Linked DNA regions of Homo sapiens: region 1 is linked to region 2. The links come from fine-mapping of genetic effects on gene expression. A gene starts in region 2. The other region holds a variant in brackets. All regions are shown on one strand. Distances are from middle to middle.

The links. PIP is the estimated chance that this variant, and not a neighbour inherited with it, causes the effect.
Region 1: its variant is fine-mapped to the expression of EAPP in whole blood (INTERVAL, PIP above 0.99).

Annotation. Positions count from the first base shown.
Region 1 is chr14:34,615,337-34,623,336 of GRCh38, forward strand. All of the region lies in intron 2 of SNX6 (sorting nexin 6), which reads right to left. Among named protein-coding and RNA genes, the nearest start is that of SNX6, 11 kb to the right of the region's middle. The variant A/AG (reference allele first, on the strand shown) is at 3,028.
Region 2 is chr14:34,534,630-34,543,756 of GRCh38, forward strand. EAPP (E2F associated phosphoprotein) reads right to left here and starts at 5,072. Exons shown (of 6, transcript NM_018453.4): 1 at 4,926-5,072; 2 at 1,465-1,646. The coding sequence starts at 4,999. LOC105370447 (a long non-coding RNA gene) reads left to right here and starts at 5,120. Exons shown (of 2, transcript XR_943739.1): 1 at 5,120-5,155; 2 at 5,557-7,077. LOC112268123 (a long non-coding RNA gene) reads right to left here and starts at 8,825. Exons shown (of 2, transcript XR_002957583.1): 1 at 8,320-8,825; 2 at 6,605-7,360. RefSeq lists silencers at 2,914-3,208, 5,150-5,249 and enhancers at 4,275-5,199, 4,850-5,009.

The sequences.
Region 1 (8,000 bases), 80 kb after region 2:
TCAGCCTCCTAAGCAATTGGGACCACAGGTGTACACCACCACATCTGGCTAATTATTATTATTTTTTAAGAGATAGGGTCTCCCTATGTTGCTCAGGCTGTTCTCGACCTCCTGGGCTTAAGTGATTCTCCCACCTCGGCCTCCCAAAGTGCTGGGATTATAGGCGTAAGCCACCGCACCTGGCTAAATTCTCTCTTGTATACCTTATTAAAGCATGTTATCCATTTATATATTGCCTTAAGAGCTATTAACTCAATCTACCATTTGTCTTCTCCTTTTCTTTTTTTTTCCCCTTGAGACAGAGTCTCGCTGTGTTGCCCAGGCTGGAGTGCAGCGGTGCAATCATTGCTCACTCTACTGTCAAACTCCTGGCTTAAGCAATCCCCTCCGTCCTCGGCCTCCCAAAGTGTTAGGATTACAGGCGTGAGCCTGTAATAGGACTTATGACTGGCCTAAGTCCTATTTCTAATAAACAAGATGTATAATGGAAAAGCCAGTCCCCAAAATAAAATCACCCCCCACCATCAGTATAAAATATCACTGAAAAGTTAACATGCTATCATGGTTCATCAATTCTAGATGCATATTTTTTATAACATATCTGAAATAGGAATGTCCTTTTTTATTTTTATTTTTTTGAGGCAGAGTCCCGCCCTGTCACCAGGCTGGAGTGCAGTGGCGTGATCTTGGCTCACTGCAATCTCCACCTCCAGGGTTCAAGTGATTCTCTTGCCTCAGCCTCCTGAGTAGCTGGGATTACAGGCATGTGCCACCACACCCAGCTAATTTTTGTATTTTTAGTAGAGAGGGGGTTTCACAATGTTGGCCAGGATGGTCTTGATCCCCTGACCTCATGATCCACCTGCTTCAGCCTCCCAAAGTGCTGGGATTACAGGTGTGAGCCACCATGCCCAGCCAGGAATGTCTTTCAATTGATGACAAATTACAATTTAACTAGCAACATTTTTTTTTCCTTAGTGGTACATAAAAGTCTTTCAATCAACTGCACCTTAAATCTGATAAAATATATTGTAGATTTTTTAATTTTAAAGAGACAGAGTCTTGCACTGCTACCCAGGTTGGAATGCGGTGGCACAATCATAGCTCATTTTAACCTTGAACTCCTGGGATCAAGCGATCATTCCATCTCAGCCTTCCAGGTAGCTGGGACTACAGGCACACATCACCATGCCCAGCTAATTTTTGAGATGGGATCTCACCATGTTGCCCAGGCTGGTCTTGAGCTCGTGGGTTCAAGTGATCCACCTCCTGACCCCGTTTGGCTTCCCGAACCACTGGTATTACAGGTGTGAGATTTAGTGTTCATTACATAAAATGTACACAAATTGTCCAGGCAGATTTTCTTCTCAGTTTAGCAAAAAGTCAATCATTTTAGAGGGTTTTATTAAGGACCGGAGTCAAGCAAACAACTTGTGTTTCATAAAAATTTAATCGGCTGGGTGTGGTGGCTCATGCCTGGCATCCCAGCACTTTGGGAGGCCGAAGAGGGAGGATCACAAAGTCAGGAATTTGAGACCAGCCTGGCCAACATGGTGAAACCTTGTTTCTACTAAAAATATAAAAAAGAAAAAAAAAATTAGCTGGGCGTGGTGTGGGCGCCTGTAATCCCAGCTACTCAGGAGGCTGAGGCAGGAGAATTGCTTGAATCCAGGAGGCGGAGGCTGCAGTGAGCCGAGATCGCACCACTGCACTCCAGCCTGGTCAAGAGAGCAAGACTGTCTCGGGTTAAAAAAATTTAATCAACTTTCTGTAACTAGTGAGTTCAGTTTGAAGAAATTTCTAATTAGATTACATTCAATGGCTTAATCTTTTTCTGGAACAATACACATTGATTGGACTGTCTTTTGTCAGAGGCTAGGTTAAACATGTGTGTCGCTGGTCAAGAGAAAGATTATGACAAAAAAATATGGATTAAGTAACATAAATGTACTATCATTAGAAGAACAATTTAAAGACTCTGACCTGTGACCTGTTGTTCCACATATAATTACTTAGTAAAAGGCTGGGCACAGTAGCTTATGCCTATAATACCAGTACGTTGGGAGGCCAAGGCAGAAGGATCACTTGTGGTCAGGAGTTCGAGACCAGCATGGGTAACATAGTGAGATCGTGTCTCCACAAAAAATTTAAAAATTAGCTGGGTGTAATGGTGCACATCTGTGGTCCCAGCTACTCAGGGGACTGAGGCTGCCGTGGGCTGTGATTGTGCCACTGCATTCCAGCCTGGGTGACAGAGTGAGACCCTGTCTCAAAAAAAAAAAAAAAAAAAAAAAAAAGACTTGGACCAGGCGCGGTGGCTCACGCCTGTAATCCCAGCACTTTGGGAGGCTGAGGCAGGCGGATCACGAGGTCAGGGGATCAAGACCATCCTGGCTAACACGGTGAAACCCCGTCTCTACTAAAAATACAAAAAATAAGCCGGGCGTGGTGGCGGGCACCTGTAGTCCCAGCTACTTGGGAGGCTGAGGCAGCAGAATCACTTGAACCCAGGAGGCAGAGCTTGCAGTGAGCCAAGATTGCACCACTGCACTCCAGCCTGGGGGACAGAGCAAGACTGCCTCCAAAAAAAAAAAAAAGACTTAGGAAGACATTCACTACTAGTTACTATACTGACTAGTGTACTATGAAGTATCTAGCTTAGAACATCCCTAAGACGTCAGTTGTTCATATTTTGACAGCAAAGCAAATGTAGAGAGATGGATGAGTGGATGGGATGGGGCAAAGAGGAAGGAAGAAAGAAAATAACTTTGACTCTTACAATAGTCTCCCAACTGATCTCTTACTTCAGCCCTTGCCCCTCATAAATTTATTCCCTACAGGGCCACTACTATGATATCATTAAACTAGAAATCATTTCTCTGCTTAAAATCTAAGGAGTTTCCACTTGAAGAAAAGCTGAATACCTTACAGTGGCCTACCAGGCACTATAAAATCTCCATCTGATATCATCTAATTTACCACTCCTCTGGCTCACTATAGTCCTGCCATGTGGCCTCCTTTTTGGGG[A/AG]GGGGGGGATGGAGTCTTGCTCTGTCGCCAAGGCTGGAGTACAGTGGTGTGATCTCAGCTCACTGCAACCTCTGCCTTTCTGATTCAAGCAATTCTCCTGCCTCAGCCTCCCTAGTAGCTGGAATTACAGACGTGCGACACCATGCCCAGCTAATTTTTGTATTTTTAGTAGAGACAAGGTTTCACCATCTTGGCCAGGCTGGTCTCGAACTCCCAACCTCAGGTGATCCACCCACCTTGGCCTCTCAAGTGCTGGGATTACAGGCATGAGCCACTGCACCTGGCCCTCGTTTTTTGAACACACAAACATGCTGCCGTCTCAGGGAGTCTTTGCAACCGCTGGTTCCCTCTGCCTGGAACACTCTGCCCCCAGATACGTATCTGCACAGCTCACTTCCTTCAAGTCCTTAAGTCTTCCTCAGGAAGGCCTTTCCTAGCCACCCTATCTAAAAGTGCAGCTCAAACCATCCTCCCCTCCCAGCCCAAAAATCCCTACTCCTCCCTCATTTTTCTTCATAATGCCTATTCAAAACCTAATATACTTTACTTTTTAAAAATGTCTCTTCATGACTGTAATTCAGCTCCATGAAGACATGGGTTTTTGTCTGTTTTATTCATTGCTACATTCCCAATGGAAGTTCTCGACAAATATTTGTGGAATGTAAAGGAGGGAAGAGGAAAGAAAGAAAGGTGGTAACCACAACTGGGCTACAAAACTATTTTCAGGTAATTACAGTATGATCAATTAAAAACCCCATGATAGAAGTAAAATTTGATTGGCCAGGCGCAGTGGCTTATGCCTGTAATCCCAACACTTTGGGAGGCCAAGGTGGGCAGATCACAAGGTCAGGAGTCTGAGACCAGCCTGGCCAACATGGTGAAACCCCATCTCTACTAAAAATACAAAAATTAGCTGGGTGCAGTGGTGCATGCCTGTAGTCCCTGCTACTTGGGAGGCTGAGGCAGAAGGATCACTTGAACCCAGGAGGTGGAGGTTGCAGTGAGCTGATATCGCACCACTGCACTCCAGCCTCGGTAACAGAACACAACTCTGTCTCAAAAAAATATATATATATATATTTAGAGAGAGAGAGAGAGAGAGAGATAGAATAAATATAAACACTAGGCAATACAGTAATATGCGGCTATTTAATAAACTTTTTTTTCAGCACTTATACGCAAACACTGTCCCAGGTATTGTGAAAGATTTAAAGTGAACAAAAAGCCCTGCCTTCAAGAAATCTGTTTGCAATGAGGAAGACAATCAATCTTATGTAATATAAAATTAACTGCTTCCTGCTTTCTCCCCACCACTTTTACCACATGTACAATGTAACCTCATCAACACCTCCAGTCCTGTGACCTTTCCATTTATTTCCAGTCTGTCGGCACTCCCTCTGCTTCACTCCATGAATGCCATTCCAATACCTTTCCTGCTGGTCCCTTCAACTCTCACTGCTCTTTTACCATACCTGGCTCACAAATTCCCATACTCAGGATCTACTTATCTTTTATTTATTTATTTTTTTATAGAGATGAGGTCTCACTATGCTGCCCAAGCTAGACTTGAACTCCTGGGCTCAAGCGATCCTCCCACCTTAGCCTCTCAAATGCTGGGATTACAGGCATGAGCCACCTGACCTCAAGATCAATATAATCGTCAACTTTTACATTTGGGCTGCTGAGTATGGCTAGAGAAAAGTCACCATTGTTTGTACTGTTCCATTTCAAATTAATGGTCTCCAAATTGCATATGCTCTTTGAAAACCACTCAGCAGTCCAGTCCTGTGCAACTCTGCTCAGCTCCTCTTTTGATTCCCTGCAGCAACAATTCCAACTTTTACTACCACATTACACCCCACCCTCAACAAGTGAACTTGCCTCCTCCAGCCCAGAGAAATAAATGCCAGCAGCTGTTTATTCTCTCAGGCCCACCAACACATCTTTTTACAAATAAATTTTGCCTCACAGCTGGTCATGGTGGCACACGCCTGTAGTCCCAGCTACTTGGGAAGCTGAGGTGGGAGGATCACTTGAGCCCCAGGAGGTCGAGGCTGCAGTGAGCTGTGATGGTGCCACTACATGCCAGCCTGGGCAACAGAGCAAGACTATGTCAAAAAACAAAAACAAAAACAAAATTCTTTACATGAGTACCTAATTTCCAAACCAATGATATTTTTCAGTCTTCTTGGCCTCTATGCAGTATTCTGCCTTGGTATCATTCTGACCACTCCTTTCTTAAAACTATCTCAACCTTTAAAACAAAAAAATCATTATTTTTAAAACTGGACATGGGGCCGGGCATGGTGGCTCACGCCTGTAATCTCAGCACTTTGGGAGGCTGAGGCAGGAGGATCACTTGAGGCCAGGAGTTTGAGACCAGCCTGGGCAACATAGCGAAACCCTGTGTCTACTAAAAATACAAAAATTAGTTGGGCGTGGTGGTGCATGCCTGTAATCCCAGCTACTCAGGAAGCTGAGACACAAGAAACTGCTTAAATCCGGGAGGGAGAAGTTGCAGTGAATTGAGATGGTGCCACTGCACTCCAACCTGGGTGATAAAGTGAGACTCCCTCAAAAAAAAAATAAAAAATAAAAAATGGTGACGGGCGTCTCACTCTGTCACCCAGGCTGGAATGCAGTGGTACAATCATAGCTCATTACAGCCTCAAACTCCTGTGATCAAGCAATCTTCCTGCCTCAGCCTCCCAAGTAGCTAGGACTAAATGCATGTGTGACCACACCCTGTTAATTTTTAGTTTTTGTAGAGAGAGGATCTCTCTACAGACCCCAGACTGGTCTCAAACTCCTGGGCTCAAGTGATCCTCTTGCCTCAGCCTCTCAGAGTGCTAGGATTATAGACATGAGCCACTGCGTCAGCTTCTCTCAACTTCTGAAGCCTCCTCTGATTCGCCTCCTACCCCTCTCAGCCCCATTAACCAATCATCTTTGCTCTGGTCCTTAAATGCTGGTTTCCCTTGGGTGCTAGCTAATATTGGAAATATCAGCCATTCTCAACTAATAATTCCTAATTATATCCCCAATTTAGACTTTTTATTCTAAGTTCCCAATTTGAATTTCAAGTTACCAACTAGACATAGCCACCTGGATGTATTCACTTATTAAACAACTGAGTGCCCTCAATGTATCAAGCACTGTCCTACATGTTAGGGAGACAGCAGTGAAGAGACACAATCCTCAGCCTTACAGATCTTACATTCTAGTTTGGTGGGGGCAGGTTAGATGCCTCACAGGCACTTTAAATCCAACATACGTGGAACCAGACTTATGACCTAACCTCTAACCCTGTTCTTCCTTCCTACATTCTATGTTTTCTCCTTCTCCCTTGCCCAGCCCATGTATTACTTATTCAGTCACTATGTCCTGTCTATTCTATCTCCTAAACATCTCTTTACTACATCCCTTCCTTCATCCCTCTTCCACTGCCTTAGTTCTACCTTTGTCATTTCTCATCTGGACTGCTGCATTAGCCTGTTAACTGGTTTCTTTGTTTTCTGAAAGGAAGCATCAATCTATCCTCAATATTAGAATAATCTACAATGTTTTTTCACCTGGGCATGTCTTTCCTTTTTTTTTTTTTTTTTTTTTTTTGAGATGGAGTTTCACTCTTGTCGCCCAGGCTGGAGTGCAGTGGCGTGATCTTGGCTCACTGCTACCTCTGCCTCCTGGGTTCAAGCGATTCTCCTGCCTCAGTTTCCCTAGTAGCTGGGATTACAGGCACCTACCGTCACACCTGGCTAATTTTTTTTGTATTTTTAGTACAGTTGGGGTTTCGTCACGTTGGCCAGGCTGGTGTTGAACTCCTTACCTCAGGTGATCCGCCCACCTCGGCCTCCCATAGTGCTGGGATTATAGGCATGAGCCACTGCACCCGGCCTGGGCATGTCTTTCCTAGCTTAAAATTCCTCAGTACTGGCCGGGCACGGTGGCTCATGCATGTAATCCCAGCACTTTGGGAGGCCGAGGTGGGTGGATCACGAGGTCAGGAGATCGAGACCTTCCTGGCTAACACCGTGAAACCCCATCTCTACTAAAAATACAAAAAGAAATTAGCTGGGCGTGGTGGCGGGCACCTGTAGTCCCAGCTACTCGGGACGCTGAGGCAGGAGAATGGCGTGAATCCGGGAGGCGGAGCTTGCAGTGAGCCGAGATCGTGCCACTGCACTCCAGCCTGGGCAATAGAGCAAAAAAAAAAAAAAAAAAAAGATTCCTCAGTACTTCCCACTGCCTGGAGTCTTTCACTATGCACTACATACTCTGTACTAGCTGCATGTACCTTTGCAACCTCTGCTCCAGTAAGAACAAGTGCTCTAGGAGGAACCAAATTACCAACACATGCCATCCTCCCTGTTGGAAAGCAGACCAATAGCACAGTGGTTAAGAGCCAGGCCCTAGAGCTAGATTGCCTATTTGACCACAGCTCCTACCGGCTGTATGACCTTGGGCAAGTTATTTAATGTCTCTGCAACTCAGTTTTCCTTTCCCAAATAGGAATAACAGTAGGTGTATTTCATAGGGATTTGAGAATTGAGTTTATATGGAAAGTCCCTGACATGCAGTGAATGCATGTAAGTGTGTAACTATCATTATGTCTTTACTACTACCCCTTCCCCTAAAGTTGAACACTTTTACTTTGTACTCCCATACACTTCATTGCAAGGGATTATAACTCTATCTCCTTCACTACACTGTGATGGTCTCAGGGCAGGAACTTTGTCTTATTGATCTTTTTAATCCTCAGCCAACATAATATATGTCACATTTTTATGTGAAGTAACTATCAATAAATGTGGCATGTGTTTAAGCTAAAAAGTGTGCAGGTGCAAAACAAAATGCAAGCATCTGGGCCAAATTCAAGTTGAATTTGAAGCGAAAGAAAAGGTGAGGGGGAAAAAAAACACTGAAATGCATGCATAAAACAGACAGTCAAGTGTAGACGTACTTGGGCAATG
Region 2 (9,127 bases):
CGAGTAAAAACTGCAAAATAAAATTATGCAAGTAAACAGTATTAACTAATCTCTTTCCAAGAACACAAGACAGTCATCAAACAAACTCCAAGCCAGGCACAATAGTTTATACCTATAATCCCAGCACTTTGGGAGGCCAATGCAGGAAGATCACTTGAGCCAGGAGTTTAAGACCAGCCTGGGCAACATAGTGAGACCCTGTCTCCACAAATTTTTTTTTTTTTTTTTGAGACGGAGTCTAGCTCTGTCACCCAGGCTGGAGTGCAATGGCACAATCTCGGCTCACTGCAACCTCTGCCTCCCGGGTTTAAGCGATTCTCCTGCCTGGCCTCCTGAGTAGCTCGGACTGCAGGCACGTGCCACCAAGCCCAGCTAATTTTTGTATTTTTAGTAGAGATGGGGTTTCACTGTATTGGCCAGGCTGGTCTCAAACTCCTGACCTCGTGATCCACTGCCTCGGCCTCCCAAAGTGCTGGGATTACAAGCATGAGCCACCACGCCTGGCCTTTTTTTTTTTTGAGACGGAGTCTCACTCTGTTGCCCTGGCTGGGGTGCAGTGCCGCGATCTCAGCTCACTGCAACCTCCGCCTTCCGGGTTCAAGCAATTCTCCTGCCTCGGCCTCCCAAGTAGCTGGGACTGCAGGCACGTGCCACCACACCCAACTAATTTTTGTATTTTTAGTAGAGACGGGGTTTCGCCATGGTGGCCAGACTGGTCTCGAACTCCTGACCTCAGGTGATCCACCCACCTCGGCCTCCCAAAGTGCTAGGATTACAGGTGTGAGCCACTGCACCCGGTCGCTACAGATTTTTTTTTTTTTTAGATGGAGTCTCGCTCTGTCGCTCAGGCTGGAGTGCAGTGGCGTGATCTCAGCTCACTGCAAGCTCCGTCTCCTGGGTTCATGCCATTCTCCTGCCTCAGCCTCCCGAGTAGCTGGGACTACAGGCGCCTGCCACCACGCCCGGCTAATTTTTTGTATTTTTAGTAGACACAGGGTTTCACCGTGTTAGCCAGGATGGTCTCAATCTCCTGACCTCGTGATCCGCCCGCCTCGGCCTCCCAAAGTGCTAGGATTACAGTCGTGAGCCACCGTGCCCGGCCCAAATTTTTTTTTTAATTATCTGGGCACAGTGGTACATGCCTGTAATCTCAGTTATTCAAGAAACGGAGGTGGGAAGATCATTTGAGCCCAGGAGTTTTAGGCTACAGTGAGCTATGATCATGCCACTGCACTCCAGCCTGGGTAACAGAATGAGACATTGAATCTAAAGTAATAAATAAATAACTTTTTTAAATGAGAAAAGGAAGACTCTAGCTCAGACTGCCAAATACATTCACTCCTTCATTCAATAAATATTTATTGAGCACCTACTGAAAGTGCTGGGAACATAGAAGAGCACAAATAAGGTTCCTGCCCTTACAGAGCTTACAAAAATATATATAAAATTGAACCAAAAGTTTACCAGTTCCCAGAGAGGATAACTTGTCCTCCATTGTTTTCATGGTAGAATTTAATTCAGCTTCCATCTCCTTTTCAAATTCATCTTCACTAGATGATTCACTTTCTCCGGTAAGACATTCTCTGATGAGTTTTCGTTTTTGGTCAGGAGTTCCATGTAAAAGCACATCCACTTCATCCTCAGAGCTAGCATACATTTAAATCAAAAAGAATATGAATATTTAAAAATTAAAATAATTTTAAACTCCCAGCATCTCACTGTCCAACAACAATTTTAAGTATTACATGGTTACATTTGATGTACTTATACATTACATATAGCTATTCTCACTTAATAAGCCAGTTCTGCATATTTCCAATCTTCTTTAATTTTTTTTTTTTTTTTTTTTTTTTGAGATGGCATCTCAGTCTGTGACCCAACCTGGAGTGCAGTGGCATGATCTCAGCTCACTGCAACCTCCACCTCCCCAGTTCAAGCAATCCTCCCACCTCGGGTTCCCCAGTAGCTGGAACTACAGGCACATACCACCATTCCCAGCTGTTTTTTTGTTTTGTTTTGTTTTGTTTAATTTTTGTCGAAATGGGGTTTCGCCATGTTGCCCAGGATGGTTTTTTTGTTTGTTTGTTTGTTTGTTTCTTTTGAAACAGAGTCTCGCTCTTGTCGCCCAGGCTGTAGTACAGTGGCATGATTTCTGCTCACCGCAACCTCCACCTCCTGGGCTCAAGCGATTCTCCTGCCTCAGTCTCCCAAGTAGCTGGGATTACAGGATTCAGAATCCGTCTCAAAAAATACATAGATAGATATATAGATAGATAGATATCCTGGTTGTGATACTGCACTATAGTTTTGTAGTATGTTAACACTGGAGGAAACTGGGGAAAGAGTACACAGGATCTCTCTGTATTATTTCTTTTTTTTTTATTATTTTTTATTTTTTGAGATGGGGGTCTCCCTGTGTTGCCCAGGCTGGAGTGCAATGGTGCCATCTTGGCTCACTGAAACTTCCGCCTCCCAGGCTCAAGCCAACCAACCGCCTCACCCTCCTGAGTAGCTGGGACCACAGATATGCACCACCATACCAGCTAATTTTTTGTATTTTCAGTAAAGACATGATTTCATCATGTTGCTCAGGCTGGTCTTGAACTCTTGAGCTCAAGTGATTCTCCTGCCTTGGCCTTCCAAAGTGCTGGGATTACAGATGTGAGCCACTGCACCAGACCTGTATTATTTCTTATAACTGAATGTGAATCTACGAAAACTTCAAAATAAAATGTTTAATTTTTAAAAACTGAATCACAAAGTGAGAGCTATTTTTTCTACAAATTTTCTTCAATCCTTGTCATTATCTCAACCAAAGTCTCAGTTTTCAGCACTGCTGAGAAAGGCAGTCATACATCATGGACCCTAGATATGCAAGTTAAGTATGCCAAGAATGCAAGGTTCTGACCACTGTTCACTCCAGCCATTTCTCAGGATTGTGTTTGCAGCGAACAACAACCTTGAGGAATGAGATAATGTCTCCTTCCAGGACAAAGAGCAGATGTATTTACTGTCTTCTATGAAAGAGGTGGATTCTCCAAGCTCAAGTAGTCTTTAGCCACGATGCCAACCCACTGAATGTGCAGCATTCTTCTAGGACCCTCAGCGTAATACCTGTAGGGTTGACAAGCAAGAGCAAGCCACACAAACATGATGCTCATGCTGCTTGCTGTGCTATGTGTAGTCTTATCTTTGACCCAGGAGTCTCATGTCTTCGGTCAGCTACCGTGAAACAGTTAACAGGCTACAATGTATTAGTTTATAAACAGTGTAAAATTAAATACTGACAGACACCTCTCTAACACTAATCTCCCTTTTTAAAATAATAACCATTTGGCTCAGAGCCTACAACAGGCAATACTGTCTGATAACATTGTTTTGTTTTTATAATATTTATCTTTACAGTTACCTTACCAGTGGCAACTGTCACAGAATTATAAAGCTTCCTTAAAAAAATGATACAACAGTCCTGGCTCCGTGGCTCAGGCCTGTAATCCTAGCACTTTGGGAGCCCGACGCAGGCAGATTGCCTAAGGTCAGGAGTTCAAGACCAGCCTGGCCAACGTGGTGAAAACCCATCTCTACGAAAAATACAAAAAATAAGCCAGGTGTGGTAGCGCATGCCTGTAATCCCAGCTACCCAGGAGGCTGAGGCAGGAGAATTGCTGGAACCCAGGAGGTGGAGGCTACAGTGAGCCAAGATTGCACCAGTGCACTCCAGCCTGGCTGACAGAGTGAGACTCTGTCTCAAAATAAATAAATAAATAAATAAATAATTGAGACATACATATATACATACCTCCTTTCACAGACAGGACCCATTAACTGAAACTCTTTTTCACAGGGAATCCTGGTATCTATCCTCACTCCCAACAAAAGAAATCTTAACAGCAGTCTGATTTCCCATGCATCCAATGTCTCCCCATGACAATATGAGGAAACATTGTTCTTTTGATTTTTTTTTTTTTTAAGAAATGAGGTCTCACTATGTTGCCCAGGCTGTTCCTTTACTACCAGGCTTAAGAGATTCTCTCGCCTCAGACTCCCAAAGTCCTGGGATTACAGGCATGGGCCACCACACCCAGCCAAAGTTGTTAATGAAAGCATGGCTTTACAGAAAGCTTCTTTAGGCAGAATGAATGTTTTAAAGTTTAAGAATAGGATCTGCTGACAGCTTAAGAAATAACTAAATTTGTGTGGAAATATCTCGGCAAAACAGCTTCAAGTTTCCCTGGTAGAATAAAGCCCACCCTTCTGGAAATCCCACGAACCTTCTTCTGTGCCTATCTCAGGTCAATATTCTCTACAATGCTCTGCCAAGAAATATATACTTTATCTTATTACCCTTATTATACTATAAGCCTCTGGAAGACAAGGACCTTATGATTTATCTCTGTAGCTCAGAGCGAGCATACAACAGTCCCTGTCAAAAAATAAAAATAAAAAAGGCTGTTCAATATTCCCTTATTTCTGTTTATGGCAGTTTAGTCTTCAAGATGGACACTTCACATTAAGTCCTGTGAGCCTCACAACAAACATAGTGTGTTATACTATGTTATATAGGTTATACAATTATGTTATTATAGTTCAATTTTACAGGTGAGTAATCGAGGATAACTGACTTGCCTTCCGTCACTCTGCTACTAAGGTGTAGAGACAGGTTTCGATCTCATTGCTTTTGAAGATTTACACGCGGTCCCCCGTGATTCCGGAATATCCCTCTTCCTACAGGCGACATCGGCACCGCCTCCCCCCGGGACTGCGCGACCCCATCAGGAAAGCCCTTTGGCTTCGCACAAGTAACAGGCACGACAGGCTCCCGAGCCGCTAGGGTCTGCGTAGGCTCGGCAGGCGCAACGAATGGAGGCGACCAAAGCCAGGCCTCGACCCAAATCCTCGGGGGCCAGGGTGGGGCGGGAGCCCACCTGCTCAAAGCCGGCTCCTCGTCGCTAGGCTCTTCAACCGCGTAGGGGTCGTAGTCATCCGGAAGCCGGTTCATGGTGGCCTGCAGCGGCCTACACCGTCCACAAGCAATTTGCAGCGTCTCTGTTTACACTGCAAGTCCAGTCCCTAAAGCGCCCCTGACGCCACTTCCGCCTGAACGTCCCAGTCCCCCTTGCGCGCCCGCGCAGACCGACAGCACCGAGGGAGGCAGGTAGAAGGCGGGGAAGGGGCGGAGCAGGAGCGAAAAGGGGCGGGGACGGGACGGGGGCGGGTCTTAATCCCACCATTTTTGTTTTGTTTTGTTTTTTGGAGACGGAGTTTCGCTCTTGTTGCCCAGGCTGGAGTGCAATGGCGCGATCTCGGCTCACCGCAACCTCCGCCTCCCAGGTTCAAGCAATTCTCCTACCGCAGCCTCCCGAGTAGCTGGGATTACAGGCATACACCACCACGCCCGGCTAATTTTGTATTTTTAGTAGAGACGGGGGTTTCTCCATGTTGAGGCTGGTCTCGAACTCCGGACCTCAGGTGATCCGCCCACCTCGACCTTCCAAAATGCTGGGATTACAGGCGTGAGCCACCGCTCCCGGCCAATCCCACCATTTTCTTCCGCAGCTTCTGCTTACAGGAAAATAGCAGCTACCTTGTCACCAAAAATAATAATGATGGGCACCCTCATAAGTGACAGTCTCTGAGGTGAACATGCTACATGCAGCGTCTCATCACCTACGAAGCAGGAATCTAGACGCTGAGGGACACACAGCCCGAAATCCAATAAGTCCTCAGACACCAGCACCCACATCCCTCCAACCTCGCCTCTAACCCTTATGCCTTCCACACCATGAGGCTCTCAACCTCTCCTTCACACTGTTCACTCCTCAGTCTGACTGCGGCCTCAACAATCTACGAAAAGTTATCTTTTCTCGTCATCTTCCCAGTCCCCACTTTTGCTCAGCCCTCAACTGATCCCACTCGATACCTGAGGAGAACAGGCAGATGACAGCCACTTGAGCTCCATCGGGAGACTGTTTCTAACCCTGTTTCTGAACCAGGAACTCGGGTTCCTGCCTCCTACCGAGACACTGTGGCACTCTCTAAAATGTGGAGTAGCTGTAATAAATCTACTCCTGTATTATGCTTTACAGTGCAGGTCTTAGTTTTTCTTTTTTCTCATTTCTTTTGAAATGGCATCTCGAACAAAGTCCACCAATCCCTTTACAAAAGAATGAACTGCTCCTCTGTGTGTACTTCATAGAAGGTGGAATCGGACAGAAGCAGGTTAGTGACAGTTATTCCTGAAATACAGGAGCAGAGTACAGTCTGTTGTGGTTTCCCGGATTCCGCGCCTAGCTCAGCCAATTAAGCATGAGACATAGGCCATTGAGCCACTTAGTAGTTATGCGAGTGGATAGATTGGTATGTAGAGGGAAAGAGGTCTGCTGTAAAGAACAACACTTGTTTGTCTGTGGGGAAAGAAAAGCAGAATACTTGAGATGAAAGTTGGCATACAAATAGGATACTATCGCCAGTAGTTATATTACAAACATTATCGGCCTTTCTAGTGTGAATGAACATTAGACACATTATTGTCATTCCTAGTTTAAAGTTAAGGTTGCGTGGTTGGATTTTTCCACTATCTTTTTCTAATTTTTCTACCATTTGGAGACCGTAGGCATTTGGGCCTGTCACCCCTTGGATGGGTTCCTAGTTTGTTTACATTTTCCTGAACCCTCCTGAGCGCCCGTTCTTGGTCTAATCCCCAGTCGTGATGATTCCACACTTCCTCAGCCGCATGTTGTCTTGCCTCATTCATGAGCTGGTCAGCGTTTCGTCTCTTTAACTGACATGTTCCCCAGTGCTGTTTGAACTGTTGAGTTTCCGTTGCTGGCTGAGTGCGTTTTGTCCTTCACGTAACCTTCGCTGGTAAAAATAAGCCCATGTGATGTCCACCAGTGGATGAATGCTGGACCGAGAGCCCTAGCTTCTGGATCCAGGTCTAGGCCCTTCATCTGCTGCTCTGTGGCCCAGGGCAGGTTTGCTTGACCTCTGCCTCAGTTCTCGACTCTAAAGGACATACTGACCTACCTCACAGGGGTGTTGTGAGGATTAATAAATGTTGGTACTCTGCTTTGGAAATGTGAAAATGCTGTGTAAATGTTAAGAAATACTAAGTATAGGGCCAGAAGCTATACAGTGTTTCACTTAACCGTTTGCCATTCTGTATTTACCAAGGTGGTCTTTTCTGGGGAAGGAAGTAGAGTGGAAGGTGCATCCCTTGGCCCCTGGTTTACATTATTAGGGTGCTTATTGTAGGAATGCACTCTAAAAAGTGGGCGTAGAATGAAAGCAGCCGTCCAGTGGTCCTCCCTTTTCTGTAGTTTCACTTTTCTTGCTTCAAGTTACAGCAGTCACCTGAAATCTGAAAATACTAAATGAAAAACTCCAGAAACAATTTATGTCTTAAATGTTGTGCTGTTCTGAGTAGCGTGATGAAATCTGTTGCCGTCCTACCTGGAACATTGAGTCATGCCTCTGTCCAGTGTGTCCATGCTGTATACACTGTCCACCCATCAACCAACCACTAAGTAGCTGTCTTGGTTGTCAACATAACAGATCACAAGAAGATTGAGGTTGGGTGTGGTGGCTTACCCCTGTAATCCCAGCACTGTGGGGGTCCAAAGTGGGAAGATTGCTTGAGCCCAGGAGTTCAAGACCAGCCTGGGCAACTAAGCGAGATCCTATCTCTCGAAAAAATTTTAAAACAACTTTTTGGCTGGGCGTGGTGGCTCACGCCTGTGATCCCAGCACCTTGGGAGGCCAAGGCGGGCGGATCACGAGGTCAGGAGATCAAGACCGTCCTGGCTAACACGGTGAAACCCCGTCTCTACTAAAAATACAAAAAATTAGCCAGGCGCAGTGGCGGGCACCTGTAGTCCCAGCTACTCGGGAGGCTGAGGCAGGAGGATGGCGTGAACCCGGGAGGTGGAGCTTGCAGTGAGCTGAGATTGCGCCACTGCACTCCAACCTGGACGACAGAGCGAGACTCCGGCTCAAAAAAAAAAAAAGAATTAGCTGGGCGTGGTGGCGGGTGCGTGTAATCCCAGCTACTCGGGAGGCTGAGGCAGGAGAATCACTTGAACCTGGGAGGCAGAGGCTGTAGTGAGCCAAGATCGCGCCATTGCATTCCAGGCTGGGCAACAAGAGCGAAACTCTGTCTCTAAATAAATAAAATAAAATAAAATAAAATAAAATAAAATAAAATAAAAAATGGCATGTAATATAAAAATGAGGGGAGAACCCTTTTAGGCAGGATTTAACTTTGGCTACAGGTAACTAAAACAATGAGCAGCTTAGACAGGACTTATTTTTCTCACCTACCCAGAATTTAAGGGGTAGCAGTTTGGGGCTGTTGGCCAGGCTATTCACCAGGCGGCCCCTCCTCCGTCTGCTCTACCATGCCAGGTGTAAGGTCTCCCGGCCATGATTGTTGCTTCCAGGTACCAAGGCGGCCGCTACACTCCAGGCCTGAGTCTGACTTCCAGGTAGAAAAAGGGGGTAGGGACAAAGACTTTCTTCAAAAAGTGGCTTGGCCTTTTTATTCTCCTGGAGATGCCCTTTCCGGGGACGTGTGTCTAACTGGCCAGAACTGTGTTGTGTGATGAGGAAGTTGAGCTGTTTTAGCTGGGTGTGTTGATCCTGTGGACAAAATCAGGGTCTGTTAGTAAGACAGGAGTGGCCACTGCAGGATACCCTGCCAACAGCACAGAACGAGTCTGGACCTGAGAAACAGTAAAACTGACCTGTGATTAGAGGTTTCGTTTGTTGTTGTTGTTGTTTGTTTTTTATGTGTTTTTTTTGGTTCTTGTTTTGTTTTTTGTTTTTTGTGACGGAGTCTCACTCTGTCGTCCAGGCTGGAGTGCAATGTCGCGATCTCGGCTCATTACAACCTCCGCCTCCTGGGTTCAAGTTTTTCTCCCGCCTCAGCCTCCGGAGTAGCTGGGATTACAGGAACCCGCCATCATGCCCAGCTAATTTTTGTATTTTTTAGTAGAGACGGGGTTTCACCATGTTGGCCAGGCTGGTCTTGAGCTCCTGACCTCAGGTTATCCGCCCGCCTTGGCCTCCCAAAGTGCTGGGATTACAGGCGTCAGCCACCGCGCCCGGCCCAGAATTTTTTTTTTTTTAA